2 separate regions of the Homo sapiens genome follow, and region 1 is linked to region 2. The links come from fine-mapping of genetic effects on gene expression. A gene starts in region 2. The other region holds a variant in brackets. All regions are shown on one strand. Distances are from middle to middle.

Region 1 (16,286 bases), 60 kb after region 2:
AAGCCTAGAAAACCAATTAATATCACGGCTCACACCATTCCTATATAACCAAATGGTTCTTTTTCCCCAGGATTATAGGTTATAATATGTGAGATTATTTCAAAGCCAGGGAAGATAAGAATATACACTTCCAGGTGGCAAAAAAATAAGAATAAATGTTGATATAAAATTAGATCTCTTGCAGCTAGATTTTTTTAAAAAGTGATATTAGGGTTTCAGTCTTTTAAGAATATGGCTGTTAGAACAGAGTGGGAGAGAAGAGATAATACAGCTGTGATTAGCATTTATCAGACAAATAGTGGTGCCTGAGATTGGGACACGGCTGGTGGTTTAATGTTAATAATTGTAATAAATTAATAGCTTCTAAGGTTGATGAGACACCTACTAGGTGTAATGAGAAAATGGCAAAATCTACAGAGGCTCCTGCGTGCTCAAGATTTCTGCCTAAAGGTGGCTTATCCTGTGCCAGTGCTGGTTTCCACTGTTGAGGAAGCAGGAGTAGAAATGATGGTGGGAGAAGTCAGAATCATATGTTATTTATTCAGGGAGATGCTACATCAGGGTCTCTGATTAATAAGGGGACTAATCAGTTGCCAAGTCCTCTCACTAAAATAGGCATAACTATTAAAACGATTATTATGGACACAAGAACTGATTAAAGTGTAATCATGGAAGTGTAGAAGTTCTTCTATCATAGGTGATATTACATATTGAAAGCCTAATTGGAATAGGTATGCCATAAAGATATAGTGCTGATGACATTATAAATTTGATTGTCACTTGGCCAGGTGCGGTGGCTCACACCTATAATCCCAGCACTTTGTGAGGCCAAGGCGGGTGGATCATCTGAGGTCAGGAGTTCAAGACCAGCCTACCCAACACGGCAAAACCCTGTCTCAACTAAAACTACAAAAATTAGCCAGATGTGGTGGTGGCGCACACCTGTAGTCCCACCTACTCAGAAGGCTGAGGCAGGAGAATCGCTTGAGCCCAGGGGGCGGAGGTTGCAGTGAGCTGAGATTGCACTACTGCACTCCAGCCTGGGCAACAGAGCGAGGCTCTGTCTATAAATAAATAAATAAATAAATAAATAAATAAATAAATAAATAAATTTGATTGTCACTGAATAGGACTCCTGGTTGACCTAACTCTGCTCAGATTACAAGATTTAGGGCAGTCCCTACTATTCTGGCTCAAACACCACGTAGAAAATTATAGTGTCACTATCCTGTGTTGTTTGTTGAGACTGATGAAGGGTTAACGAGCACAGGTAGAGGATAAAGTAGCTGAATAAGCATTGGATTGTAAATTTAAAGACAGAGGTTGAACCCTCTTTCGACCCTGTCTTGAGGTGAATGTTCACACTGAATTGCCAATTCAAAGGAGCAGCTTCAATTCTGCCCGGGCTTCTTCTGCCTTTTTTCTCTCGACAGCGGGAGAAGTAGATGGAAGCTAACTGATTAGAATGCTTTAGCTGTTAACTAAGTTTTTGTGACGTTGGAGCTCACCAATCTAGTACGGATTTCACTTAATTAAAGTTTTTTTTTTTCATTCAATTGATGTAAGAGTCTTGGAATCCTTATGTTTCAAGAATTAAGTATAGGGTACTTGCTTAGAGCTTTGAAGTCTCTTAGTCTATCTAACCTAAATCGCTAGTTTGATGTTGGAAATATTGGTGAAAGTGGGAGGAAAAGAGCTGATAGTAAAACAAGTGATGGGAGAAAGAATATTTGTTTTATACATATATATTTTAATTTTTTTATTGAGACAGGGTCTCCCTCTGTCACCCAGGCTGGAGTGCAGTGGCATGATCACAGCTCACTGCAGCCTTGATCTCCCAGGATCAAGTGATCCTCCCGCCTCAGTCTCCTTGTAGCTGGGATTACAGGTGCATGCCACCATGCCCAGCTACTTTTTTTTTTTTAATTTTTAGTAGAGATGAAGTCTCACTATGTTACCCAAGCCATTTTATATTTTTCAATTGTCATTTTGTTTTTGTTATTGGTTGTTGAAAATATAGTTAATAATAAAGAATAGTCATACATAAAAATATAAGTTGAGAAATACTATAATAGTTACGAATGGGGGGCAAGAAAAAAAGAAAATAATTATGAATGTTGGCATAATAACATTTTTGAATGTTAATTTACTTGGGTAGAAATCCTGTAAGTAGGGGTAGGCCTCCTAAGAATAATAGTTATAAGGATTATAGAAGTTATTATTGGTAGTTCATTTCATGTGTGCAATAGTGATAGTGTTGTGGTATTTATGTTTTAACTAAATATTATGAATATGGTAATCATTGGAATGATATAACTTAGAAGGTTTATGATTATTGTGGGGGATTATAAATAAGGATAGTTATTATTCAGCCTATATGTGCAACTGGTGAATAAATAGGCTAAGAGTTTTCATGGTTGCGTTTGATTAAATTCTCCTCATCGTCTTATTAGAATAGATAATATGGCAATTATTTGTATTATATTTAGATTAATTGATGGATTAATCGATGATATGATACTGAAAATATAATTGAACTTGGTCCCAGTTTTTGTCATGTTAATAGGATTATGCTCGATATTAGTGAAATTCTTTGTGTTACTTCTGGGACTCAGAAATGGAATGGGGAGAGTCCAAGTTTTATCATTAGTGCTATCTATGGTAACTACCGGGGATGCTGTTTGTTTGGGAATTTTTATGACTGTTAATTGCCCAGAATACAATATGTTAATGATGCTGTCTATCATTAGGGGTATAAATATGGTTGCTTGTGTTAAGAAATATTTGGTAGCTGCTTCTGTGGATCATGGATTTGCTTTTTTCATTAAAATGGGAATCATGGCTAATACATTTATTTCTAATCCCATTTAGATTATTAGTCAATGTGAGCTAAATATTGTGATTGTTTTCCTATGAAGACAGTAAATAGAATGGTAGAAAAAATAGGGGATTAATTAGTATGGAAAGAATATAAACCAATGTTTTTGGGGATATGGGCCTGGTAGCTTATTTAGCTGACCTTACTATAGAATATGGTATATTAGGCAGCACAGAGATTTTTGAATGTTTTTTGTTTTTTTTGAGATGGAGTCTCTCTCTGTCTCCCAGGCTGGAGTGCAGTGGCCAGATCTCGGCCTACTGCAACCTTTGCCTCCCAGGTTCAAGCGATTCTCCTATCTTAGCCTCCAGAGTAGCTGGGATTATAGGCATGTGCCACCACACCCAGCTAATTTTTGTATTGTTGGTAGAGACGGGGTTTCACCATGTTGGCCAGGCTGGTCTCGAACTCCTGACTTCAGGTGATCCACCCGCCTTGGCCTCCCAAAGTGCTGAGATTGCAGGTGGGAGCCACCATGCCCAGCTGATTTTTGAATTCTTTAGAGTAGGTTCAATTCGTAACATTCTGGAAATAAGAGGACTTAAATCTCTATCATTTACTCTCTTTAACTATTTTATCAGACAAATTTCTTATGTGTGTGGTGGAATATGCAGTAGTAAAATAGGTACTGAGATGTGTCATATGCATAAGGCTAATTTGAGTGGTTAGAAATTTTTTCATAGAAGGTACATGAGTTCATCATACTGGAATCATGGGTATAATGCTCAAAGTCAAGAACTGTAAGATAGGAAAATGGTGTTCATGATGAAGTTGAGTATATAAATTTCTGGTATGTGAATATCATGGAGTTCTTCTAGGCAATGGATAATGGTTAGGGCATTTATTATAATGATGTTGGTGTACTCTGCTATATAAAAAAAATAGGACAAATTGGCCTGCAGCATATTGGATGTTAAAGCCTGACACAAGTTTCAACACCTTGTGTCAAGTTGAATGAGGCTCCATTAGTTTTTGCTACTGTTGAAGTAAATCATATTATGGCTAAGGATCATGATGAAAAAAATAGTCGTACATATTCTCAGGTATCAATTAAAGTTGTTAATGTAAATGATTTGCTTATTGAGAGAACTAATAATGGTGGCTGGGATAACTTCATATAAATTTGTTTGTGCTACTGCTCATAGTGCACCAATTAACACACATTTTAAAACTGATGTTCATCCTGATTGAAGGATGGAATATATGGGTAGGCTTCATGTGGTTAAAATGAATAGTGTTCCTATATTCATGTTAATTAGTGGGTACAGTAAGATTAGTAGAATTCACATAGTAAGTGCAAGGGCCAGGGCCAGTGTGGGTGCAATGGCATATGATAGTATAGAAGATGTTGGTGGTCGTAATGGTTCTTTAGTGAATAGTTTTATGGCATTAGTGAAGAAGTGAAGTGGGCCATAGGGGCCTACAGTATTAGGTCCTTTATGAAACTGTATATAATCTAATACTTTTTATTCAGCTGTTAGCAATGCTATTGCAAGGAGAGGGGGGCTAATAGGTAGAAGATTAACTATAAACATGCTGTTAAGAAGGAGTTGAGCTGATTGTAAAGTTTTAAGTTTTATGCAATAACTGGGCTCTGCCATCTTAATAAGCCCTTGTTCTTGGCAGGACATTTAATAGTATATTAGGTTGAGATTATATATAACCTATTAAAATTGAGGAAGTTTTTTGAAATGGGCTCTATTTCTCTTATTCTTTTGTACTAAGAGAAATACTGAATAGGTAGAAATAGATCTGGATTGCTCCGGTCTGAACTCAGACCACATAGGACTTTAATTATTGAACAAACGAACCATTCATTAATAGTAGTTACACCTTTGGAATGTCCTGATCCAACATTGAGGTTGCAAACCCTGTTGTTGATAACAAACTCTAAAATAGGGTTGTGTTGTTATCCCTAGGGTAATTTGTTCCATTGATTAAATTGCTTAGGTTAATAAGCGATTATGTTACTTTGACTGGTCTAGTCTAGATTTTAATCATTTGGATGTTGTGTTGTACTCTGAAGTCACCTCAACCAAAATTTTTAGTCTGGTAGATTAGGTGTTATTCCTTTGAATAGTTAGGTTAAAGTTGTGTTATGTAGACTAATTCATTTACGTTCCATAGGGTCTTCTTGTTTTATTTTAATATCCCTGCCTTTCCGCAGGGGCAGGAAGGTCAATTTCACTAATTGGAAGTAAGAGAAACTTGAACCCTCTTGTGGTCATTCATACAAGTCCCTATTTAGGGAACAAATGATTATGCTACCTTTGCACTGGTCACAATACTGCAGCTGTTAAACATGTGTCACAAGGCAGGTGACATACTAGTCTGATACTAGTTATATGAGAGGTAATGTTTTTGGTAAATAGGCAGGGTTTGTATTTGCTGAGCTCCTTTTAGTTTCTTTAATCTTTCCTTAAGTAGTGCAGTAGTGGATGCCTGTGTAGGATTAACAATTGGTCTTTTTTGTTTTTTAGAGAAAAGGTCCCACTCTGTCACCCAGAATGGAGTGCAAGTGGCATGATCATGGCTCACTGCAACCTCCAACTCTGGGCCCAAGGGATCCTCCTACCTCAGTTTCCCAAGTAGTGAAGACTACAGGCACATGCCACCACACCTGGCTATTTGGCTTATTTTTTGTAAAGATGGGGTCTGGAACTCCTGGCCTCAAACAATCCTCCCACCTTGGACTCCTAAAACATTGGAATTATAGGTGTGAGCCACTGAACCCTGCAATATTTGTTTGGATAAACAGTCAATTGATCGGTTTAATTTATTGAGTTGGTAACTATCAGCTAACATTAGGAATGCTATTGTATCCAATATAAGCTTATGCAACGATACATTTTTTCTTGTTACTTATATAAACAGAATCACCTCTATTTATACATAGGTTAGTCCAGTAAAATATTAGGAGTTTATATAAATAGTTGGAATTAAGATATTGATTGTTGAGCTTGAACCCTTTCTTAATTGGTGGCTGCTTTTAGGCCAATTATGAGAATTTAATAGTTTACATTCTATAAAAGGTTGTTTCCTGTTTCTAAAGTGTTGTCCCTCTTTAGATTAACGTTTAAATTTACATTAAGGTTAAATATTTCTTTAGGTAAATTTAAGGTTGAATTGAAATTCAGCGCTCACCCAGCTCGACTGGCATTTTACCTCTACTCAAGGATATTCTCACAATTTCACCACATGAACAAGTTTGTTCTTGTAACTGTCCATGAGTAGCTCATCTGGTTTTGGGGTTTTTAGCTAAAGTTTTCTTTGTAAAATTGTTCTAGTTAATTCATTATGCAAAAGGCATAAGGGGTAAGCTTTGTTTTTTTTTTTTTTTTCAGTTTATTCTTTCATCTTTCCCTTACAGTACTTTTTCTATAGCATCTAAATAAATTTCTATCATCTCCTATCCTCCCTGTTGTAAATAATGTTTTGGTTAAAATGTGTATGTAGTTGTTAAATTTTGTTAGTTTTAGTTCAAAGTGGTCAGATTAATATGAAATCTTCCAGGCATAAGCCAGGTGCCTTGAGTTAAACTACACTTTGGTTTGTCCAAGCACACCTTCCAGTATTCTTTGTTCTGACATCTCCTCTTATAGATGGGTCTGTGTTAATTATAAACTTGAGTTTATTGAAGCATTTGAGGAAGGTAATGGGCGGTCTATGTGTGCTTCACAACCTTATTCAATTAAGCTCTCTATTCTTAATTTACTACTAAATCCTCCTTTGGCCTGTAGTTTCATAAGGCTTATCATGGGTTGGGTGTACTTTAATCAGACAATGTAAGTCATTTCTTTCCATCTCATAAGCTACATGTTGACCTAATGTTTCCATGTAAGTACTTGTGCTTACTTTATGACCTTTTTAGGGCTTGCTGAAGATGGTAGTATACAGGCTGAATTGACAAGAAATAGTGAGGTTTATCATTGCTTATTAATTATGAACCAGGCTCCTCTAGGGGGGATGGAAACACCATACCACCAAGTCCTTTGAGTTTTAAGCTGTTGCTGATAGTACTCTAGTGAATAACTTTAAGTTTATGGCTAAACATAGTGGGGTATTTAATCCCAGTTTAGGTCTTAGCTATTGTGTATTCAGATCATATTAAAGTCATTTTTGTAGTTTATTTGTATTATCCTAAACACAAACGTGCTTTTCAGATTTTATTAATTTGGGTTTATGACTGTGGTGGCTGACACAAAATTTACTGACCCTAAGGAAAATTAGCATAGTTTAGTCAAACTTTTTGTTTATTGCTTTTTATTATTGCTATTTCCTGTAGGAGTGTGGCTGAGCAAGACGTTAGTTGCTACCAATTAGTGTGCTTGACGCCTGCTCCTTTTGCTCTTTTGCTGATTACACATGCAATGCAGATACTTGCACATGTAATCTTACTAAGAATTAATAGAAGGGCCAGAACCAAACCTGTGTGTTTATGCAGTTACATGAACTCATCTAGGCATTTTCAGTGCCTTACTTTAGTGGACTGAGCTACATCGACTTATATCTAGAAAATTCTGTCCTGGGGAAAAAAACTGCTAAATTATGTGCTATGTTAGCATTGGGGGCTCTTTTGGTAATCTTAGTAAGAAAAAAACTTTTAGCCTAGAAAGCCTAATTTTTAATTGATGTTTGGATTTTTGAAAAATGCTTTAATTAGGAGTTGGGTTAATGCTAGATGAACTTATAACTAAATTTAATAGCATGTGAGTATATATAGGAGCCTTAGTTAGCAGTCAATAGATACAAGGTTTCTTATTTGGGCAGGGTTGGCAAGAATAAAAGACTTACTCAGATACTATAAGAGCTTAAGGAGGGTAGAGGGGTTTACAAAGTTAATCATACATGGCAGGAAGAACTGCTTGTATGTGTCTGTGTCTATATCTTGTTTTTATTACGTCCATTGAGATGAATCAATTAGCACCAAATGATTTTATGTGAGTAAAGAATATTCCATTTAAGCGCAGCTACGATCTAGCTGACTGTGTCAAGGCATTGACAGCCATGTTGGATCACAGCACCCTCCAAAATTAAAAAATACCAAATGCATGACCCCACAGTTCCATGTCATCTTGTGCTAGTTAGTCATTAGTCACTGAGATGTCTTATTTAGGGGGAACAAATGAGTGGTTTCAAATCTATGGCCCTGAAGTAAGAACCAGATGCTAGGTATAGTTTCAAGTCTAGAAGCCCCTAGGTTTTATGGGCCCAAAGCAAGAAGGACATTTCCTGAGTAGGTTGCTGGTTTCTCAAAGCTTGGTGGTAAAGAAATCCTATTGGAAGTGATAAGCATGTTGTTAAGGATTGATGTGACTTGATGTGACTTAATGTGCCATGCACAATCAATGATATTATGTCCTATGTAAAAGAAAGGAATTAATGTACTGGACAATATCCAAGTGTTGAATCTATTTTATGTAATCTTGCAATATAACATGCTGTGCACTCTAATTAGTGCAATTTATGTGCGCATATGCATGGGGAATGGACCTTAATGCACAATAAAACATTTATGTAAAATCAAGCATACATAGCACTAGTACATTATTAATGGGGCAAGGCACGTAATGCAGGTGGAGGGCCTCTTTGGAGGTTAAAAAGAATAAAGAATGTGGAGGAAAATGAAAAGATAGATAGTTCCTCAAATGAGAGGGACATAGGGGTCAGAGAAAAGGGCTGTCTTTTTTTTTTTTTTTGAGACAGGGTCTGGTTCTGTCACCCAGGCTGGAGTGCAGTGATGTGATCCTGGCTCACTGCAGCCTCAACCTCCTGGGCTCAAACCATCCTCCTGTCTCAGCCTCTTGAGTAGCTGAGACTACAGGTGTGCACCACTACGCCTGGCTAATTTTTTTTTTTAATAGAGATGGGGTCTCACTATGTTACTCAGACTGGTCTTGAACTCCTGGGCTCAAGCAATCCTCCCACCTCAGCCTCCCAAAGTGCTAAGATTATAGATGTGAGCCACTGTGCCTGTGAGAGGTGTTTTCTTAATGAAAGAAACAGAACTGTTTATATAATGCAAATAAAAAGGAGAGAATTAAACAGAAAATAGCAGAAAATCATAGGAGCAAACAAAGCGCCAAAGGCCTGTGTGCAGAGGGACGGGTGCTGGGCTGAAGATCAGAGCAGAGTGTGGCATGCAGAAGGGGCAGGGCATGCTGGCTGGAAGAGTACACACCCTCCCAGCACGAGGAGGACCCAGCATGGGGAAGTCTGGGGCATTTAGCACGTGGCACAGTGCC[C/T]AGCACCCAGCACCCAGTGGGCTCCCATGACTACCAAGACCAACTGCTTCAAATTAAATCCCAGTCTTACCATACAGTAGCTGTGTGACCTTAGCAAGGTAAACAACCTCTCCTATCTGGGAAGAGGCCAGATCTTAAGCAAAGCACAAAAGAGCTGGAGTTTTGGAAAGGGACCCTGTGAAAAGGGGAGAAGATTTGGAACAATTCTTGTGAAGAATGGGAGACAGATGACCAGAGACCAGTAAAAAGAATGCACACAAAATGTGGTAAACAGGCATCAGAATGGTATAAATGTAAAAATAATGCCATGGTTAGGAATTGAGATTTCAGTCCCTTTTTTTTTAAATTTGGGTTTAATTTCTGTATATATCAAACAACAAATAACCCAAAGGCCAGGATCGGGGCCTGTTGTAACTGAGAAAGCAAGAGCTGCCTGAGATGTTCATTTTATGCATCAAGTTGACAGGGCCTCAAGGTGCCCAGATGGTCAGTCAAACATTATTCTGGGTGTTTTTGTGAGGGTGTGTTAGTCCGTTTTCAGGCTGCTGATAAAGACATACCCAAGACTAAGCAATTTACAAAAGAAAGAGATTTAATGAACTCACAGTTCCATGTGGCTGGAGAGGCCTCACAATCATGGTGGAGGGTGAAAGGTACATCTCATATGGCAGCAGACAAGAAGAATGAGAGCCAAGTGAAAGGGGTTTCCCCTTATAAAGCCATCAGACCTTGTGAGACTTATTCACTACCATGAGAACAGTATGGTGGAAACCACCTCCATGATTCAATTATCTCCCACTGAGTCCCTCCCACAGCACGAAGGAATTATGGAAGCTACAATTCAAGATGAGATTTGGGTGGGGTCACAGCCCAGCCATATCAGTGTTTTACATGAAATTAACATTTAAATTAGTAGTTGTCTTGAGTAAAGCAGACATAATGTGGGTGGGCCTCACCCAATCAGTTGAAGGGCTGAATAGAATAAAAGACTGACCCTGGTAAGACTGAACTCTCCTGCCTGATGCCTTTGCACTGGGACATCAGCTCTTCTGGGTTCTACAGCAGCTTCCAGCTTTCAGACTCAAACCAGGACATCTACTCAGCAGATTTTGGAGTTGCCAGCCTCTGTAATCATGTGAGCCAGTTTCTTATAATAAACCTCTTCATATACTAGTTCTTGTCTTTGGAGAACTCAGAACTCTGAACTCTTGTCTTTAGAGAACTAACACACTGCCTGACTGCGTGATTTTATCATTTATTGCCCTCAACCTCAGAAAGAATTTGAAATAGCTGCTTAGCTACATAAAGTTTCAGGCCAGTGGGCTTTCTTTTAAACTACAATCTTTGCAGGAAAAAATGGCAGGTTCATTGGAAAGGAGTCCTGAAATGAAGCAAGGAAAAGGCAAGAAAGAATAGAAACAGAAGAATTCCCAAGGTTGAAGAGGAAACAAAATGTTAAAAGAAAGATTTTGACCAACCAAAATTAAGAAGCAAAGAACAGGGGGGAAACTAGGCAACAAAAAAGACAAAAGAAAAATAAGTAAATAAAATAAAAAATCAATGGATAAACAATGGCAGCCCGGGCAACATAGTCTCTACAAAAATTTTTTAAAATATCTGAGTGTGCCTGTGGTCCCACCTACTCAGGAGGCTGAGGCAGGAGGACCACTTGGGCCTGGGAGGTTGAGGCTGTAGTGAGCCCTGATGGTACCACTGCACTATAGCCTGGGCAACAGAGCGAGATCCGCTCTCAGAGAAAAAAAAAAAAAATGAGGCACCTAATAAATGTTACTATCTCCTTGCAGCTCTAATGTGGGATTTAATGAGTGTTCAAGGGCTGCTGAGCAGGGACAACATTGTGTACCACCATGTAGCTGAAGAGTTAACTTTCCTAGTTAGGAGGAAATGAAGCTGTGTGCCTGGTTGTAAAGATAAGAGCCATCCAAAACATTTATTTTAGAAAAGAAAGTGACACGAGGGCAAGCAGCCAATTAAAATCTGGAAAGCTGCGACTATGGAAAATTCTACATTTCCTTTCAACGTAAGCACCTAATGACACAGGACTTCATTCCAGAACTAACACTAACACTTCTCAAGCAATCAATTCATATATTCCCATGTTCACGTCTCTCCAAAGTTGCTGTATTTCCCCTGGAAAAACGGAAGAAATCCAATATAGCTACCCAAACAAATACCGTAAATGACTTAAGAGGCAGGGACAGAGAGAAGTTAGAGCGGCAATAATTTATATGATAGACTTAAACCCTTCTTCTACTGAGTGGGGCTCATAGCCTCTTGTCTCTCAGTAAAAGCCTATAATAGTTTGAAGCAAAAAGACAACCCTCCCCTCTAAGAAAAGTGGAAGTGAGAAATATGACATATTGGAAAAATGAAAAGGAAACCAGAATGCTCCCCACCTCGTGCAAAAAATCCCTGTTGTCACATGTTGGCTATTATCAAAAGACTACCGTGTGACTAATTTGGAGCTGTGGAGTCAGCCAGTTATGTGTCAAATATTATTTAAAATGCCCATTTGATAAACAGATGATGACTATGTTTGTGAAGAAATCAAGACAGTTGCAAAAGAATTTAAGAATAAATTTTACAAATTTCTATTACTAAATTCTGCCTGGATCTTCACAGGAAGATCCAGGCAAAGCATTCAGTGTGTTTGCAGAACACTCTTAAAGTTGGAGAAGCTGCAGAGAACTTTCGGGTGCAGAGTCTGGCACACTTCCGGGTTTAGTACATTCTCCATGCATTCATCCACTTCAGTTCTGAACCAGAACCCAGTGCCTGCTATGAATGCGCCAAGCACGACGTAAGAAATAGGGGCTACAAACACACAAGTATGACCACTGCTGCAGTGATCCTTGAAACATGCACATGAGTCCCTAAAATGGGTTCCCTTTGCTAGAAGAAAAAAGTCTGAGTTCTTCACCATGTTCTGAAGACCCCACCTAGGTGCATCTGCTGCACATACCACACCCTTCACTCACTCACTCAGCTATTGCCACGCTGATCCTCTATTACCCAACCTCTATGAGACACTTCCTTCCCCTAGGTCTTCACATGGCTGGCATCCTCTGGGGTATATCTAGACACCCCTCTGAAGCAGCTCTTCCTACCCATTCCCAGCCAGGTTAGTCCTCAATGGCCTTACAGGTGCAGAGGGCGAAAAGTCTTACCTTGTTCGCTATGTTTATTGTGTATCGTCCACCAGCAGGTAGGCTCCATGTGGACAGAGTCCTTTTTCTCATTTGGCTGCTCCTGCCCTAGTACCCAGGTATTCAACAATTACTAAGTATTCACTAAGTGAATGAGGATTCTGCCCTCAGTAAATGGTTGTTGAACAAATGAAGGAACTATGGGCACTTTTACCTAAGCAAGTTGTCAGTGACACATGTACTGAAACAACAGAAAGATATCATCAGACCAGCAAAGTTTCAGATGCTTTATCCCCAGCCAACCAGCTATCTTTTCTTCGGGGACTGCTGACATGAGTGACTGCTAATGTGATAACCAGTGAGATGAGCTACTCTGGGACAGATGTGCAACCTAACCCCCAAGTGGAGGAGGCGGCTGCAGACGGCTGCAGCTAAGGCCAACTGAGATGCTGAGTGGACAAACGAAAACAACAAAAAAGGCAAACAGACAGAATCGACAGCAAGAGCACTGGACGGAGTGAAACCCCAAAGGGCAAATCTCCTTACCATTCGTAAAAGGAAATTCAAATTAATTTTTAAAAATTCTATCGATATAAACAGATAAGCAAAGAATTAAGAGAATTTGTAGAAAATCTGAGCTAATTCCCGGTAGGTTTTTTAAATTGAGAAACAATTCATATACCACAAAATTCACCTTCTAAAGTATACAATTCGGTGATTTTTAATATATTCATAAAGTTGCGTGATCATCAGCACTATCTTAACTCCAGAACGTGATTGCCCCTAAAGAAACCCTGTACCCATTAGCAGCCACTACTAAATCCCTTCCCATCCTGGTTCCTGGCAACCACGAATCTTCTTTCTATACCGATTTATTTGACTATGCATGACATTTCCCATAAATGAAGTCATCTGTGACCTTTTGTGTCTGGCTTCTTGCACTTGGCACGATGTCTTCTAGGTTCATCCATGTTGTGGCGTGGGTCAGTACTTCCATTTCTTTTTATGGCTAATATTCCACTGTGTGGATAAACCGGATTTTGTTCATCCATTCATTCATCAGTTGATGCACACTTGGGTTGTTTCCAATTTTAGCTATTATGAATAATGCAGTTATCAACTTTCATGTACAGGTTTTTGTGTGAATATATGGTTTCAGTTTTCTTGGGTTTACACGTTGGTGTGAACTTGCTGGTCATGTGATGCCAGCAGGTTTTTAATGGGAAATCTGCCTTCTAAACAGATGCAGTTAAAGAGGAACTAATTTCATCTCACATAAGATATGAGGCAGTAGGCAAAAAAGAAACACAAATCATGCAGCATGGAAAAGGGTAGTACACAATAACAACAGCAGTTAATATGTTGAGCCCCTCCTCTGCACCATGTACCATGCTAGAAAATTTGGACCTGCGGTTTAATCCTCATTCTCACAATAGTCCTGTAGTGTTATCCTCATTATCCTTCTTCTACAGAGGAAGGAATGATTCAGACCCTGGGATGCTAGTCTGCCCACGATTTTACATCCTGAGAGAGCACAGATGTGAAGTTGGCTCATGTGGCCTGCTTGGAGGAGGTAGGAAAGGAGAGGAGACTGCTGGAGCATCCCTAGGAACCATCTATGGTCTAAATTCCTCCTCCAAAGCGGCCCCCATCAAATCAACAACAGTAAACGATATTCTTCTTTCAGAGAACACATAGAGAAGCCAATTCTAAAAGGGAAGAAAGTCCAGTTTGAATAGAGCCTCTATCCCGAGGGCAAGTGAGCAGCAATTCGGAATTTGTGAGAAGTGACTTGCCAGTCCTCTGGTCCCAGAACTGGGGTGAGCTGAAGGTGACCAGAGACTGGGGACAAGTGGCCAGTTAGGAGGCTGTCAGAACAGACTAGGAAAGAAATATGGCCAGTGGGGATGCCAAAGGAAGAGCCGGGAGTGGAGGATGGGGCGGGGGGGCCTCCAGAATGCTTCACAAGCCTGAATGCAGAGGGTGGCCAGCTAACGGTAGGAGGTAAAATCCATGCCACATGTCACCGATGGAAAACAAGTCTGACAGAGGGCTCTCCCCTTCCTATTTGCCTCTTTCCAAGGGCAACTGTGAGTTGCTAGACTTCTCAAATAAGGCCTTAATGGCTTCAATGTTTTATGAACCTCTTACATTTCTTAGAGTCAATAAAGACAAATAATATCATTCAAAAGCACGTGGTGAGCATCTCCCTGATGTCTCCCTGCAGAGGCTGGAATAGTGAATGCTCTGCACACAATGGATACTAAGTGAGCACTGATTGACAGAAGAAATTATATTCCCATTAGAACCACACAGCTGTGTTTTCAATTCTGCTGATTCAATATTTCCCATCAGAAACAGCTTCTGGTCTTTCAGTATGACAACCAGTTTACTCTCGTGCACATCAATGCACAAAGTATATGTAGTTGTCTTTTGTGATCAAAGAGAATGCTGTCCTGCGTAGCAATCTGAGGCACACCAACAATGATTCCAAGAGCAATCCTTTCCTCTCTTTTTCTCAGGCTTGTGGGGATGTTAAATCTAGCAATCAAAGTAAACAGAAGCAAGGCTGGCTCTTCCAGTCATAAAAAAACAAACAAAAAAAGCCAAAGGATATGGGATATATTGGAAACTCAAGGTCAAAAAGGCTCATTAGCCAGGTGTGACCAACTAGACCTCTATGTCCAGCGCAGTAGCCACCAGCCACATGTAGCTATTTAATTAGTTAAATAAGATTGGTCAGGTGCAGTGGCTTTCACCTGTAATCCCAGCACTTTGGGAGGCCAAGTCAGGCCAATTGCTTGAGCTCAGGAACTTGAGATCAGCCTAAACAACATGGTGAGCAGTCTCTACCGGGAAAAAAAAATAGCCGGATGTGGTGGCATGTGCCTGTGGTCCCAGTTACTTGGGAGGCTGAGAAGGGAGGATGGCTTGAGCCCAGAAGGCAGCCTGGGCGACAATGCCAGACCTTGTCTCAAAAAAAAATTAGATAAAAAAATTCAGTTCCTCAGTCACACTAGCCACATTTCAAGTGATCTTCAGTCACATGTGACTAGGGGCACCACATTGGGTAGCACAGGTATAGAATGTCCATCATCATAAGAAATTCTTTTGGACACTGCTAAGCCAGGCCGACTAGGTGGTCAAACGTGATAAAATGATGTGTCTATTCTTTACCCACTGACTGATAACATAGGTTGACTTTTCTGGACAGATACCCTTAAATCAGTTTGTTTTCAGACTGTGGGTTTCACAGATCAGTAAAATCCTTTTCCTAACTTAGGGCTGCCGGGTTTGTGTTTTGTCCAGTAAGATTGCCACCAGATCACCAGGCTGCACGCCCCATCAAGGTAGGTAGGCACTGTGCCCATCTGACTGCTTGCATTAAATCCCCAGCGCCTAACACGCCTGGTTCATAGCGCATGCTCAGCAACTGAGTCAGTGATTATATATGCACACGCACATGCACACACATACATATATCCTTACCTTTTTAATTTGATCTTCAGTGAAAACTGTCACTGGCTGGCACTGGTCTGCTCAAAGATGTGTGGGTTTTATGCACACACACACACAGAGGCTAGAGTGTCACAAAATAAGTCATCTAACATTTTTTGAGAACTTTATATTAATAAACGCTTGTAACAAAATATACCAAACCAGAATGCAGAGTGTAGGTTTCTCTAAACTGACTGTACAAGTCAGAACCAAAAATGCAGGGAGGAGAAACTACCTGTTTGCTTTTCAATGGCACCAGAGTGCCCTCTTGTGGTAAAACATGGTATCTGCATAATCACAATTTCTATTTAAAAAACAAGCGTCTTTATGCTTCTAACAATGCATAAAACCTGTACTCAACTATAAAGCACTCTTGAGAAACAGTCTAAATATGTATCTAAGTAGTTTATATAAAATATGGCAAGTTGTGTTGGTGAAAAAAATAATTAAGATTTGTCACAGGACTATGCGGTGAGGCCACCCACATACCTAGGAAAC
Region 2 (16,286 bases):
TTCCTAAATACAAAAATGAACAAATATAATTTTTCTTGGTTTTTGAGCTTCCAAGCAGTTTGAGGAATTTTTCCCATCCCCCCATCCGGAACTTTAAACATCACCTTCACGTATAAGATGCAAATACAGCATCGTCTTCATGGGACCTGAAAGATGAAACCTAAATGCTGAGAGAGGCATTATTTTCCTCTGTGTGCTTTTTCTATGCTTTTTAAATGTTTAATTAGGAGCATGCACTGCATTTGAAACCAGAAAAAAATATATGATTCTGCCTAAAGACTGTTCCTGTTTAATGGGCCTGTCAGGTGACTGGGATGCAGGTGACACCTGGGGCACCTCCTGCAACCCTTTCTATGGAGATGGAGATTGGAGCAGCACGGGCACTCAGCACAGGGAGAGGGCAGTGTAAGCACCGCAGAGCTGCAGGACTCAGCCTTGTAAATGCTAGCAGGAGGCTCCCACGCTAAATGGTTAATATTTTCAGAAAAGCCCAAGGCAGATGGGGTGGGGGGAGGGTACTACATTCGTGCTTAGCAGCACAGCACAATGGACCCTGCCCTGAATTCAGAAACAAGAGACCTGAATTCTGATCCTAGCTCTCCCACTTCCAAGCTGGTGGCCTGGCTCAGTCTCTTCATCTCACTGAATCCCAGCTCCTCATCTGGCAAGTGATGAGAACAATGGTTTATGAGGTTATTTCGGAGGGTGATATAAACTAGTGTCAAAAAGAAAAATTCTCACATATAGTAAATGCAAATAGTAGATACAAATAAATGCTATTTGAATCTAAACAGCCAGGAAATAGATCCAATCTCAGAAAAAAGTGTGAGGAAGTAACAGTGGAAATCCGTCTCTCTTATTATTTCCAAATGTTCACAGTGTTAGTGCTCATAAACACACTTGCATTAGTTTGCTAGGGCTGCCATAACAAAGTGCCACAAACCGCATGGCTTAAACAACGGAAACCTGCTGTTTCCCAGTTCTGGAGGCCAGAAGTCCAGGACCAAGATATCAGCAGGCCGGTTACAAAAAACAAACAAACAAAAAAAGGCAGAAAGAATGAATGAGACCTACTATTTGACAGCACAATAAGGTGACTATAGTCAATAATAACTTAATCATACATTTTGAAATAACAAAGTATAACTAGATTGTTTGCAACTCAAAAGATAAATGCTTGAGGTGATGGATACCCCATTCTCCATGATGTGCTTATTTCACATTGCATGCCTGTATCAAAACATCTCATGTGCTCCATGCATACATACACCTACTATGTACCCACAGAAATCAAAAATGAAAAAAGATATCAGCAGGGTTGGTTCCTTCTGGAGGCCCTGAGGGAGAATCTGTCCCCTGCCTCTCTCTGAGCTTCCAGTGGTTTTCAGTGGACTTTCCTTGATGCTCCTTGGCTGGTGGCAGCATCACCGGTCTCTGCCTTCATCTCCACATGGAGTTCTCCCTGTGTGTCTCTCTATCTCCAAATTTCCCCTTTTCATAAGGACACCAGTCATTCTGGATTAGGGCCCACCCTAATGAACTCATTTCAACTTGATTACCTCTTTAAAGATTCTCTTTCCAAATAAGGTCACATTCTGAGGTACCGGGGTAGAGAGGGGGTTAGGGCTTCAACATGTGAATTGGGGGAGACACAAATCAGCACATAACAACATTCTAAAAGAACAACATTCTCAAGAGAGATGGCTGTGGTTGGGCATGAGACAGAGTGGGAGTCAGGCATGTGAGGAAGCAAGCGTTCCTGGTAGCCAAGCTAGCAGGAGCTATATCATGATTGGGCTCAGGGTAAACCCCTCGAGTCTGCTCTGCAGAGGAGAGTAAATGTGGCATATAGACTGGCCAGAGAGGCTCTGAAGGAGTCTTTATAGGGATAGGATTTTGCAGCGGAGGCCAAAGGTCTGCTGAGAGTGTCTCGAGGCTGTAGGCCTGACATGGGAGGGCTCCTGGGATGAATGGCACAGCACCATTGTCCGAGAACAGGTTTAGACACCCAACTTCACAAGGGCAGAATGGCCTTATCAGCAGGAAGATGCTATGGATCACAGGTGCACAGATCCCAGGGTGAAGGTTGGACCTCCAGGAGTCCAAACCTGAGGGATTGCTGAGTGCAGAATGAGCCAGGAAAAGACCCCTTTCTGACTCAGAGAAGACTAGGTTCTTCCCACCAGGGCCTATTAACCGAAGAAAAAAAAATCTGCAATGTTTTTTGCAGAAAAAAAAATCTGCATTTATCCTTTGAGTTACATACAATCCAATTACACTCTTTAAATTATTTAAAAATATACAGTTGAGTTATTATTGACTATCGTCATCCCATTGTGCTATCAAATAGTAGGTCTTATTCATTCTTTCTACATATTCTGGAGGAAATTCTGGAATGCACTTAGGATACTACTACACCCTGCAGTGGAGTCACCTTAAATTCATCTTTGGCTAGGGTTGGAATTGTTTTATCTAATGTCCAATGAAGACAAGGTTCAATGGACTGATATCTAAGACAAAAGCATCTAAGATGAGACTCAGGAAAGAGGTTATAAGAATGACAGACTAAGCTTCATTTGCACAGCTAGATCATTCATTCATTTATTCATTTTCACAGTCATTCAACAAATGTGTGGAAGATGCCAGGCATGCAAATATCAATCATGTGATCCCCAACCTGGAAGAGCTCACAGACTAACTAGAGAGACAGAGGAATGACCAAGCCCTGGCAATGCAGTGTGACAGGTACCATCACTAGACTCTCAAAGTGTCTGGAGAGCCAATGGCACAACATGATACTCTGCCCAGGAGACAAGGGCCATGGGAACATGAGGCTGCCTAAACCTTTACAAACTGCCTAGGTTTGTTACCACTTGTCTCTTGCAGTGATTTTAAGAAACAGCTTATAACAAAAAGGCTTGTGTTTGGCAAAAGGGGTGTAAGGAAGGTGGGGATGTTTTCTTACTGTGCAGCCCATCAGACAGACAACAAAAAGTTGAGCAGAGAGAACTGATGAGGAAAGAGAACATCATCTCTGGGGTCTACAAGAAGAAATTGACAAACAGAAGTTTTAGATTTATTCATTTATGAGAAGTTACTCAGGGTCCTGATGTAGCCAGAACAGCGTTAGGTACAGGGATAGGACTGTGTGTGAAATGAAACCTTATCTAACCCAACAGAACCCTTGCCTTACCAAACCTAACAGTCATCCTTGACGGAAGCAGACATTAATCACTAGTTATTCAAAGATAGAACCACAAGCGGTAACAGGTAAGTCAAGGCAGCTGGGGTGTGGGTGGAGGGGGTTTATCCACCAGGAAGCCCTGGCTGTCCTCTCCACAGGTGCTCTCACTCTCGGGGATGGAGTCAGGCCAGCTGGGCTGCACTCCTGTTCCTCTCCAGGGTGGGAGGGTTGGCTCGGACAGTCCCCCTTCCTCTGCTGGGCTCCTGCAGGGGTCTGTATACACACTGACCCCTCCCCAGGCAGAAAAAAACTGCTTAGTTCCTGAATGCCTCTAATGCTTTTCTACATGCCCTTCTAGTATGGACCATGGACAATGCTGACCTGAACGGTGTCCACTTTTATGTTTTTCTTCCCTATAATAGTAACTTCTTCAGGTCATCTTTGTGCCAAATGTCTATTCAGTGAACAAAAGAGCAAAAAAAGATGTCTTTTATCTTATTCTGTCAACACAGAGAAACAAAGACCTAGAATATTGTTTTCATAGCTCTATCAAAATGAATCAAGGTCAGCAAATTTAAACGTTAAACTGAAACCAATAAGATGAAATTTAACAGAAATAAATGCAAAAATTCCTTATTTGGGTTACTGAAGTCAATTATACCAATTCAGGATTCATAAGGAAAGAAATTCATTCATTCAACAAACGTTTATTGAGCGCCACCTACGTTCTAGTCACTGTACCAGGTGCTGGGTACATAGCAGAGAAAATACAATGTCCTTGATGTCATAAAACTTAAATTTGATTATAAAGAAAGATCTAAGGATTTTAACTAATCATAAGCTTAATGTGAGTCTTCAAGGTAATATGGCAACAACAACAGCAGGAAAACAAACAAATCCTAACCTGATTTTACATGCACCAAGAGAGGTTTGTTCAATGACCATATCATAGCACACCTTGTATTGCCCTATGCCGTTCAGCTGACATCAGTAGCTTGGAGTTAGCCATAGGTCCCTTGTATCAAGAGGGACTTTGACAAACCGAGTAGTGTATTTAGAGAATGTGGTCAGGCCTACCTGAGGTGTGAGAAGTGATTGAAGGAACTGCATGTATTTGACCTGGAAGACCAATGGTAAGAGATGTGACAGCCATCTTCAAATATTGAAAGAGTTGTCTGTGCAAGACTTGATCACATGGGTCTGGAGTTCACCGGGTAGAAATTACAAGGAAGCAGGAAGAGTCTCACAGGAGAACTGCTTCATAAAGTTATGGGAAAGCCTCCTTCCTTAGGGAAAAGATATTCCATCCTTAGAGATGATGCAGAAGACAATTGTGCTGTCTGAGATCAGAGTAGAATCAAGAGATCAGACTTGACTTTGAGTTTAGTGAACTGTAAAATCAAGAATTTCATAGCATATCCCCTATTAATCAGGAAGGCAGTATTTAGGAGTAGAGGCTTTGGAAATGGATAGAACTAGATTCCAGGCTGGAACTGGGAAAAGTTACTTGCAGACTTCCAGCCTCATTTCCTCACTTGTAAAAGGAGGGTGGCTATAGTTCCTGCCTCGTTCCTGAAGTGAGGATTCAATGAGAAAATTCAAAGTGCCCAATAAAGCACCAGGCCCCAGTAAGTCATTAATAAATGATGGGTAATGGTGATATTAAATGCTGTCCATTTTATTTGACTATCTTTCAGTTTATTTAGGTAAATCATTTTGCTGTCTGTAATTCTGCAAACCTCTATTATACTAAGACAATGATTTAGCAATTTAAAAATGTAAAGTACAAGTCCTTTAGAAAGTTTTGAAATGTTTTCTCTGGAGAAATTAGAAAAAAAGTGTGCTTAAGGATGCAATTTTTGGGGCTTGTGATTACACTGAGATGAAGCTAGGAAGTTATTAATGAATGGAATGACTGAGCTAGGTTGGGTCATGGCAACCTCAGAGACTTCCTTTCTCCTTGGAGACCCCCACCAGGCAACAGAATTAAAAATCAATCCAGCAGACTGATTTTATGAGGATTAAATTATGTCAGACCAATTTAATTTCCTTCTGTAACAGAGGGACAGACTTTGGTGACACAGGAAAGCAATGGATATCACATACCTTGGCTTCAGCTAGCTTTTAAATTCTAGCCTACGTAACAGTCAAATCTAAAAAATTAATTCAATTCCATTGAGTAGTGGAGATGATCTCCAAAAACAGGAACCACAGGCTCAGGATCATTTTTTGAGTAAGAAGATGCAAGAAACCTTCTTCTTTGTGGAACTGGGAGAAAAACATGCCCCCTCCCTGCAGTGAAATTCAGAATTCATTCAACAAATATTTGCTGAACACCTGTCATGTGACACACCCTCAATCTGGATTGGGCTAAGAGAAACACAAGTGAGATTTAAAAGCAGATATGATTAAATGGGACTTTTCTTGGGCAGACATGTTTGTGGAGTTGAGGTTGTGGGTTCAGGGAGGCTACAGAAGAAATGGAATCGTTGGGTTGGGCCAGGTGTTTGAATGGAGTAGGGTAAAGTTGGGGAGAACTTTTTAAAGAGAAGTTGTGCGATCAGAAAGGCCGTTGGAAGAATTCAGGCTAAATTGATTCAAGTGGGAAAACCTCAGTAGCAAGTACTGCAAAGAAGAGGCAGAAGGGGCTCTAGGAAGAGCTGACAGGACGGAGGACAGGTTCAGACAGAGCATCCATTCATTCTGAAAACTTTTACAAGTCCCAGATGTGTTCAGCACAGAAGATGCAAAGATGAATTAGCTTCTCCCCTAGCCCTCAAAAGTCCTGAAGTAGCCAGGAGAAAAGGTGGCTTCAGTTTGACACCAAAGGAGAATCACTAAGGTCCCAGAAAGAAGGGATTCTTGGGAGCTGAGGGTAAAGTCTGTGAGTGGTTGAAGGAGTGTTCAGATGGGGATGATTCCCCTGAGAGTCTCATTTGACTCACGTGGCTGACTTCCAGAGACCTTCTCCAGCTCTAGAATTCTAGTAGTGAAGCCATTTTTGTTGATTTCACAGTCTGGACTCTCCTGAATCTACTGGCTCTTTCATTTACTCCTACCCACCTCTCCCATCAGAAAACAACTTCTGTAAACAGGAAAAAGTGGCATTCTGGCCTCCTATCACAACGCAGCCACTGGGGGCTGTTAGGTGTCCCCCAGCAGCTTGGGAGTAAAATCATGAGTAAAGCACTGGCAGGGGGTGGGTGAGGTGGAAGTGAGGGGGCAGAGAAGATGAAAGGAATACAGAATCCTGGCCAGTCTCCCAGGGTGGCTGAAACCCAGGAGATCTGTAGCTTTCACGGATGACCCATTCTGACTAAAGATGACCAGCTCCCAGTCTGAAAAACCCACAGAAGTCAAGCCATTCCCAAAGGCCCTAGGGAATGCCAGTACACCCCCAAAGAAGGCCTTGATTTAATCTTGGTCTTCAGAAATATCCCTCTCCCCTGAGGCTAACAGAAATTCCCAGGGAATTAAAATGACCCTGCCCATACAAGCGTCTTGCCAATTTCAGGGTGCTGTCCTGGGGCTGAAGTGGAGCTTCTCCTCTGGAGGATGCAGGCCTTCAGGACCACCTCTCTGGCAGGGCTGGCCCATGTTTGGCAGGGTACCATGAATGAGTGTGTCTGTCCCAGGCCCCACCTGTTGCAGTGACCAGATCTCATGATGGATGGGATATGAATTAGTATGGCAGAGTAATAAATCAAGGAGTGTCAGGAAAGTTGTGAGGAACATGTATGTACATATAGAGCCATCCCATAATAACTCTTTCATACCCATACATATGCATATACGCACATACACACACACACCATATACTCCCAGTCACCACGGCAACCATTTCTTAAAGCTGTACTTACGGGGTTTTGGTTGTTTTTTATTATTATTTTTTTCATGCTAGATCTTTTCACCCTTATTTCTTCGGAGTACATCTCTGGCCTTTGACTCTCTGCTGAGAAGTACCATACCTCCTTGGGAAACCCTGTCACATCTAACATTTACCAGGTCCCTCTAAAAGGCTCATATCTATCCTCATGCTGACACTGAATTCAGCCAACACACCATTTGGTGACTTGCTAAAAGCATTGGCAATACAAAATAACCATTCTGATTGCCACTGTGAGTCAGAAAAACTGGAGACAAATATAGTGTAATGTATTGTACAGCTTTCACAGACAGTCCTCAATTTTAAAATAAAACCAAGTCACAAAGTTAATGTGGAAAAGGAGCCAGCTTTGGTCCTTAAAAATGGAGAAACCTATTCTTGATTAAAGTGACAGCTCTATTTAGTAGGCATGGATTTAAGATTCTTAACCTTGTAAAAGTAATTCGCATTTCCTTCCTCTTCCATATGTTATACATTATGCTTCAAATTAACCCTATTTTCCATTTTAGATTTCATTATTCAAAAATGCCAATAATATCAGTGGGTGAAGAAACACTTAAAACATTTTTATCCAAATATTGACCTTGCTTTGGACAACATCCATGTAATAAGTAGTGAGATTTTTTCCTTTTAATGTCACCAATATGTTTATGATTAAAGGTCAGTCTGTGGCAACAGTTTGCATCTCTGCGCTATAATTACTTGTTCTGCTAAAAAATAAAAAAATAAAATAAAATAAAATCCTGACTTATGACCTGACCAGACAATTCTTTGCATCTCCTTTTATCAGATTTCTGCTGGATGAGGAATGACCTAGGCAAGAGTATTTAATTTATAGTCAAAATCCACATGTGTGCCCTGCCTCCTGCAAAGCATTGGGACACCATAGGGTAGGGAGAGAAGTCCTTTGCTATGGAACAACTGCTCCAAAAGTAACCTAAAGTGCAGAACTAGCGATGGGGCGGGGTGCATTTATTTTGACCTAAACTGGGATTCTGGTCTTTGAAGCCCGCGAGTGGGCTCATTTCCTAGAGGGAGAAAAGGGGAAGCGACAAGAAAGACTCCACCCAGGCGATCCCAGGCAGGCGCCTTGTGTATAAATCCAGGGAGAGAGGGGCACCAGGTGGCCAATGGATGAGAAGTCACCCGGCTGGGTACGCAGGTGGCCAGGGGATGGCAGATGGGCCAAAGCGGGGCGGAGGCGGCCCTGGGCGGATCAGGGGGTGGGTGGCTGAGGGATATGTGTGCGGAGGAGGTGGGCTGTCCTCCCACCCACCGGTCTCCCGACCAGCGAGCAAGCTTTGGACAAGGCCAAAGAGCATTGGGCTGCTGGAAGCTGGGGCATCGGCGCAGCCTTCGGTAAGGGGCTCTGGTCGACCCCACTCCCTGGGCTTGCATCTGTCCACTGATCAGTGGGCAGGTCCTGCCTCTGCTTCCTCCCAGCCACCCCCGCCGCGCCATCAATTCCTCAGGGAACCGGCTCCTCTCTCAGTGCCCGGGCCAAGGCGCCCGGGGTAGCGGGCGGGCGAGGGTCTGCAGGGGCCCGGCCACTTACCCGAGTGCAGGCCGCCCGCTTCGGGGCCGCTGTCCGGGGCGGCGGCGCTGGGCGGCGCGTCCGAGTCGGTGTAGGTGAGCCAGGTGGATTCTGTCTCCCGGGTCCAGCTCTCGTAGTAGCGGGGCTCGATGGCATCCGCCCGGCTCCCGCCGCAGCCCATCCTCCTGCGCCGCGGGAGCGCCCAGCGGCTGCTCGGCTGTCGGCTCTGGCGGCGGCTCAGCCCCGGAGGCGCAGCCCCGGCCCGCAAGGAGGCGGCGGCGGCGACATCGCGTCCCCGCTCCCGCCCGCGCTGCAGCCGCGCGGAGCTCCTGCGGTGCCCGCCGCCCCTAGTCCGGGCCCTCTCCCAGCCCGTCCCTCCTCTCCGCCTCCAAGGCCCTCCCTCCCCTCCGGTCCCCACCGCCCAGTCCTCCCTCCCAGCGCCCTGGCCGCCCCAAGGCCCCCGCTCGCCCGCCCCCTCCCTCAGGGCTCCGTGACGGCCCGGGAGCAGGAGCAGCGGCCCCGCAGCCGGAGGAGGGCTGGGGCTCCCGAGGCGCTCGGACCCGTCTGGCCGGCATTACCGTTCCCAGTCTCTGGCCCATCTATCCATCCATCCATCCATCCATCCATCCATCCGCTCACCCGCTCATTCATTCATCCATCCATCCATCCTTCCTTCCTTCTTTCCATCCATCCTGGAAAGAACTGAAACTCTTATCACGGGACCCCAGGCTTTCTGGCCACCTGTTACAAAAGCAATGGAACTGGGAGCAACCCCGCAAAACTGGTCAGGGAGTATTGCCACTAAGACTTAAGGAACAGTCAGAGCCTATGCCTGTCGTATCTGATTTGGGGAGGCAGGAGTAGGGCTATGATTTTTAAGAGAGTTAGGCTAGGCAGTGTCACTTACACCCCTTCCAGCTGTGGTACTTCATGATCCTCTGAACTTTAAACTCGAGAAAGCAATAGATCACCTGGAACCACGCAGCATCCTGAACCCCCTCTCTGGGCAAGGCTTGGAGGCATGGCCGGTCCCTTCAAGCCCAGGGTGGCCTTGACATTCCCGGGATCCAGTTGTCAGCCTTTCTTTTCTCGGTGCACCCTCAGGTCCATGCGGGTTCAGACCTAGAGCTCAGACTTGCGTAGGCCAATGAATTTACCTGTTCCAAGAATCCAGAACAGGTGGTGAAAGATGAAAATCTTCTTAGCCTTCAAGAGGGGGGTAGGAAAGGGAAGGGTTTGGAAGAATAACTCTTCAATGACCAAGCTCTGCTAGAATATGGTATTAAGTATCATATTCATTCATTCATTCATTCAATGTATATTTACTAAATTCCTATTGTGGCAAAAGACTGTTCTAGTAGACATAATACATATATAATATATTTTGTATATTATCCATTGTATGTAGACTATAGGGTGTGATGTTTAATATAGCATGTAAAGCATAGAGAATATAGTACTCATTATATCCTATATAATTTATAGAATGTACGAGAGTACATTGTCTATAACATTTAGCACGTAGCATCCAATAGGTAGGGCAAGTTCAGAGCATTGCCTGGCACAGAGTAGGCCCTCAGTAAATGTCCAGTGAATTAATAATGAAGTATCTTTTTATAGTAATTTGATTCACTTAAATTATTGTAATTTGGGCTAAAGATGATCCAGTTGAGGGTAGAGCTGTCAGACATTCCTCTGGCAGGCACTCACCAGAATCCATAATGTGGAAGGGAGCAAAGATTCATGGAACTGTGGCCAGGGTCTCCTCCTCCTCATGCTGAGCGCAGCACCCGTTCGCACCCCAGGACTCAGGCTGGCCTCCTCTGCAGGCTTTGCTTCTCCTTTTGAGATGGCCTTGACAGGACTCTTCAACCTTGTTTTAGGTGTAAGGTGGAGGGAGTGCAGTTATCCGGGAAGTGGTGGCTTCCCTAGTCCTTTGGAATTCAGATGCCCTGTGCCTCTTTTCCTTCCCCCCTGAATATTTTGATTTCAGAAGAACCAGCTTTCAGGGAGAGAGAATACTTAACATCTCTAGCAGAGCCTGTGCTTTCCTCAGTTCTACGGCACAGTGCTCCTTTCATAACCAGCCACTTCGTGATGTCACCACCCAAAGAGCAGACAGACCAGAAAGAGTGTCTGAGTTAGACCGTCCTGGGGGAGTTCTAGAAAACGAAAGAAACTGAAAGAGCTAGAGCTTGGTGAGCACAGGAAACAGAGTAAACGTGAGGTGAAGTGGAGGGGTATCCTGGGGCCAAATAGAAACCCACATGCCCATATGTCTAAATTGTAAAAGCTATAAACCAAGTGAGCAAGTTTAATTGAAACATGGGCTGTCCTCATACCTTGACAAGTTATCTTCATAAAAACTTAAAAGGCCAGGTTCTAATGTAGAGTTCTCTCAGTCTTTGGAGTTCTGCACTGAACATGGCAGTGGGATTGTGGGTGGAATTGACCCACCCACTCCTCTTTCTATCCTCAGTTCAGTCCTGCTACACACGGGTCCTTGTGGGCCCATGGGTCTAAGGTCTGTCCATACTCCCCTCCCACAAATAGCTGCCCTTGGCCATCCCTCTGGCTGAGGAGCATGTGCCTGGGGGATGTGGTCTGCCCTCATGGGGTTTGCTTCCAGTACAAGCCCTGGAAGTAGGCTCAGTGGGTTTGGAGAAGAGAGTTGCAAGGTCTCAACTACCCAACAGGGAGGTTAGAAGGGGCTGAGACTCAGGCTCCAGGTACGTGCATTCTGTGATCCCTGGATTCCTTGGCCATAGAGAGGACCAGGGCTGGAGAACCAGAGTGGGACCTCTGGGGCAGGAGCCCAGAGCAGGGACCCCTCTTGCCAGGCCCTGTCTACTTACTTGAATGGAATTATGAACATTTCCAGAATACAGGAGATGGTTATCAAGTACTGCCTGGCTAAGGTTGAGTGTGGTCACTCATTTCACACACATTTCTGATCATCTATTGTGTATAGTTTAAGCTTCTTAAAGACAAAGATATGGTGACATGCTTGGAATCTTCAAAAGGGATTAACTTAATGCCTTCATAGAGTCAGTGCTCATCAAATGTTTGCCTAATGAATGAATAGCAAAAGACAAGGTGGGGATACAGTTAACAGTGCAATTTCAAGAGCCTGACTCTCTGAGTTTAAAGTTTGGCTCTGCTACTTAAGTGGATGGTCTTGGGCAAGCTACTTAACCTCTTTATGCCTCAACTGCATCGTCTGTAAATTGGAATAATAAATTGTGTCAGTATGTGTAAAGGGCCTCAAAGAGTGCCTGGCACATAGAAACACTCCATGAATGTTGCTATCACAACACTTTTGGGGCAACAAGCAACAATGTCATCTCTCTTCCTTAAGAGGGAAATCCCTGAAATTATTATGTCTTTTCACATGAGATAATGTTTGTGAATTTGCTTAGCACACTGCAGAAGTTTGGTAAATAGGTAGGTTTTTTTCTTTTCTTTCCTTTCTTTTTCCTTCCGTTATGATGTTACTGCTAACAACCTTCCTGCAAATAAATTTTTTTACCCCCATTTCTAAGTAATCATCATCGACAGAGCAGTTAGATTTTTTCATGGAATCTCTTTCTTGGCATTACGTAACACCATTGATTCAGAGAAATTCAGAAGCCAGAAAAAGTTAAAGAGCAGCCAATCCAGTCCTTTTATTTTACCAACTAGGAAATCGTAGCTCAGAAAGCTGTAAAATTGCCCAAGGTCACACAGGAAATGTTATCTCTGGCAGAGCTGAAGTTTCAGCCAGAGCTGGGGGCCTGTGGCTGCTGGCTCCGTGCTCTTTTAATTACAGCTCTTTAGTTGGGATTGAATTTTCTCCTAAACCTTCAGGAATAAATGTCATAAATTAAATGTAAATATGTAAAATGTAATACATTATCTTAAACCCTCTGTTCAGAATCTGTAGCTTGACTGGCATGAATTGGTTATCTTTTTCCATCAAGTTTGAAAGCAACAAAAAAAGAATTCTCCTAAGGAGAAATGCTGCAACAGGGCATTGGAAAGCCTGAGCCAAAGCCATCCAGAGCAATGAAATAAATTACACCTGTAAAAACTACTGCAGAGTGGTATTTGCTATATGATGGGATTCTCAAAATAAATTCTCTCTGGCTTTAAGAACCCCTGTGACTGGTACCACCTCTGGCTCATTTCTATGGAAACTGAAGCAAAGGCCTGTAGTGCTTCTCCCTCCAAGGTCTCATTTCTGTGGCTTGGCATCACTGGACTCTACCCGACTATTGTGAGCTGTAGAAAACAGACCTTCAGTAAGGCGGACAATCAGGACAGAACAGAAGGGTTAGCAGGAACCTAAACCTGCCTTTAGAATCAGCCATCTGAAAAGGAGTAAAGATAGATTCACTGCCTTACAAGTTTCCATCTCTTTCCAAGTGAAAAAGTAGCATAATTGAAGAACAACAGTAGCAATAATTCTGGCCAACAGGGTACAGATCCTAGGTAAATCTCTTTGGTCTTGAATGCCAAATCTCAGCAAGTTTCCCCACTGCTACAGATTCAGTGAACATACCAGAACCAGAGCTCCGTGCCCACCCTCTGAAGGATTTTAAAGCAGTTTCCACAGAGCACCCCTCCAGGTCCTCGATCTTGGCTAGTTGACACATCCTCATTGATCCACAAATTGTCATTTAGATGTAAAGGAAGAGGGCTCAAAGTTAGCACCCAAAAGCACAAGATCCAATTTCGTTCCCCACATCTGGAGAAAAAAATCAGAAAATATCATTTGACATGAGCTCATTCTTGCATCTGTTGCCTTGAAGAATGACTGCTTTCCCCAGGGCATGAATGGTACACCTGGAATCCAGGTGATGTGGACAGATCGGGTAAACATCATTACAGAGTATAAACAAGAAAGGAAAGCAAATATTACAACAGCAAGAAGATAAGTGAGTTTTTTATTTGGTTTAAGAGGTTAGAAAAGGTGAAAAAGGGAATGTTGCAGAAAAACAACAAAAGGAAGTAATTGAATATGTTACAACAAAACATTTATATAGAAAATGAAGTTTATATGTGGAATTAAACACTGTAGAATTAATTCACCACTAACCCTAAAATAAATTGTTCTCATGAGAAAAGAGGCTGGCTCCTTTAGGTTAATTCTAGAGAGATTCAGCAAGTTCTTTCACTGATTGCCAAACTTAAGAGTCTATCTCAGTCCCTGGATTAATGTCCTGTGGCACTTTATCATACCCCAAATTAAAACACAGGACAAAGCAAATTTTTTCGGGTGTTTCCCAGTTTCTGGTTTTACTACACTTCCTTATGGTGTAGTACTAGCTCATTGATCAGATGTAATGAATAACTGATTTGTTCTCTCACATGAGAATATGACCAACATTCTACTGGAAATGGCCTGGAGAGGAAAACCCGGTGATGATGAGGTCATGGACCTAATTTTTAAATGACAGAATAACTTCAAATTGTAGATTGTAATGCAAGAAAAGGGGGACTGAATAAGAGGTGAGAATAGATCCCAAAAGGCATATTCCCACAGGACTAATTCCAAAGAGAATTCTGAAAACCCAGGGAAGGTTTCAATAAAAACATCCACATAGCATTACACCTTCTTAAAGGCCTTTGGAACCATCGTTATCAACCTCTAATGTTGCTCAGGCCTCTTAGTAATACTGTCCTGTGCACTTTATTTTCACCAGAACAAAGAAAGCTTGAGTAATTTGCCAAAGATTACTATACATGTCAGAAAGAGAAAGACTGGGGTGTAGACCTCTTAGTCCAGAAACATAGAATTTTACTTCCCTTCAGAAAAAAAGGAAAAGCAGATTGTAGCTTCTTTCTGAACTTGAAGAGAGAGCATTTTCTGTAGATTTGAATAGTGCATTTTTACAGTGTTTACTAAGACCTATGGTTCCAATTCCATGCACCAGTTCTGATTGTACCTTCACCTTTAACTCATGAAGATTTTGACAATGTGTGTCTTAGTCCATTCCTGCTACTGTAACAGCATACCTTAGACTAGGTAATTTATAAACAACAGAAATTCATTTCTCACAGTCCTGGAGGCTGGGAAGTCCAAGATCAAGGTGCCAGCAGACTTGGTGTCTGGTGAGGGCTGCTCTTTGCTTCCAAGATGGCACCTTCTTTCTGCATCTTCAAATGGTGGGAAGACAAAAGGGATGAACACTGTGTCCTCACAAGGCAGAAGAGATGGAAGGGCTAGGTAGCTCCCTTCAATCTCTTTTATAAGAGCTCTAATCCCACTCACGAGGGCTCCACCTTCACTTTCCAAAAGGCCGCAGCTGTTGATACTATCACATTGAGGATTAAGTTTTAAACTTGAATTTTGAGAAAACACACACATTCAGACCACAGCTGTACATGAATCTGAAGAGCAGTGTGAGAATCAGCAATCACCTGTAAAAATACAATCCGATGAAAAGAGAGGAACTGAAATAGATAGAATAGATTTTGGCTGATGCTTTTGGCAGAAAATTGCTGGTGCTGGTGTACGATGCCAGGAGCCTTGGAGTGCAGGGCTTGGGTTTCTAAGGCAGAGCTGGAGGAGTGGAACAAAATGTTCTCTTTAACCACTGACCATGGCATACAGCATGGAGGAGAACTGTTTTTGGGCTCTTGAAGGTTCTCAGAGATTTTCATATAGCACAAAGCAGTCCAGATGACTGAGATTCTTTCTCTGAGAGAAAAGAAAACACATTCAGAACATTTGTTTGCTCTTTGCTTAATTCTACCACAGTTAACCTGGATCTTCAATCATTAAAGAGACATGATATGTCTTATTCCTTTCCCTTGGCAAAGAGTTGCTTGTCTACCCAGGCAGAGCAGAAAAAAAAGTCTTTTTCATATTATTCTACTGCTTCTTAGGATGGGGCAGGTCATTCGTTGTACTTGCGTGTAAAGTTAGGTCGCACCACAGCAAGGCTCAGGGGAGCAGATGGTGACTTTTATTCATCATTTCCCAAGATGAGGGAAAGGGACTACAATAGTTTACTCTCTCAATGCTATCTTGGTTGTTGCTATTACGACAGATGCTTCCATCAGAGGAGATACAGATATAGAAGAGAGAGGCTGAGACACCAGGAAATCAGGCTGCCTCTCCATCCTGCCCCCATTGCATTAATGTGGAAATGAGATTCAGTTTGCTTTTTGCTGGACTTCAGTCAACAGAAGAGTAATTGCCTTATCCTAAATGAAAAACATGACTTCCTGATTATAGTAAATAGGGAGACGGGGGTAACATGAGCAGGACAATCCGGTCTTTCACTGTAACTACCCAGCAAAACACTGCCTCTTGAGACAGCTGGGAGCCCAGGGGCTGGTGGAAAAGAAGCTGAGGCAGCCCGCAGGGCATTTTGAAGGTGAAAGTTGTCCCTACACACGAAGCTCCTGGTACACTGCCCATTAGGGTGGGCTGATCTGCTTCTGCCTGAATTTGAGGTAATTAAATCAAGGATTAGAATGATATTTACATTTGTTTTCTTAAATGAACCTATGTTCAATTAAGCACAATACCTACTTCACAGTATTGTGAGGAAGCAGAGAGACTGTGTGAACATGTTTCACACAAGTCCTAACACATAGCAACTGCTCAACAGATGGCAGCTATTATTTTAATCTTTAAAAATGTTTTATTCTTGTGATTGTTTTTCCTTGACTAACTGGGACCTTTGGGTCTT

Alleles and levels. Alleles are on the strand shown, and positions count from the first base shown. SD is a standard deviation of normalised expression in the study named.
For the expression in monocytes of the gene that starts at base 8,341 in region 2, T is the low allele of the variant in region 1 and C is the other (large effect, 0.85 SD a copy in Quach 2016).

Evidence for each region. PIP is the estimated chance that this variant, and not a neighbour inherited with it, causes the effect.
Region 1: its variant is fine-mapped to the expression of BAALC-AS2 in monocytes (Quach 2016, PIP 0.95). The same link has a PIP of 0.9 or more in monocytes after Pam3CSK4.

The regions. Positions count from the first base shown.
Region 1 is chr8:103,073,779-103,090,064 of GRCh38, reverse strand. It overlaps the pseudogene MTND1P5, the pseudogene MTND2P10 and the pseudogene MTCO1P4. Among named protein-coding and RNA genes, the nearest start is that of LINC01181, 39 kb to the left of the region's middle. RefSeq lists an enhancer at 11,359-11,528. The variant C/T (reference allele first, on the strand shown) is at 9,124.
Region 2 is chr8:103,133,397-103,149,682 of GRCh38, reverse strand. BAALC-AS2 (BAALC antisense RNA 2) reads left to right here and starts at 8,341. Exons shown (of 2, transcript NR_027071.1): 1 at 8,341-8,429. BAALC (BAALC binder of MAP3K1 and KLF4) reads right to left here and starts at 8,958. Exons shown (of 3, transcript NM_024812.3): 1 at 8,626-8,958. The coding sequence starts at 8,785. It overlaps LINC01181 (long intergenic non-protein coding RNA 1181), which reads right to left. Exons shown (of 6, transcript NR_145429.1): 3 at 14,392-15,286; 4 at 13,145-13,330; 5 at 10,315-10,477; 6 at 9,328-9,810. RefSeq lists a silencer at 8,733-8,922.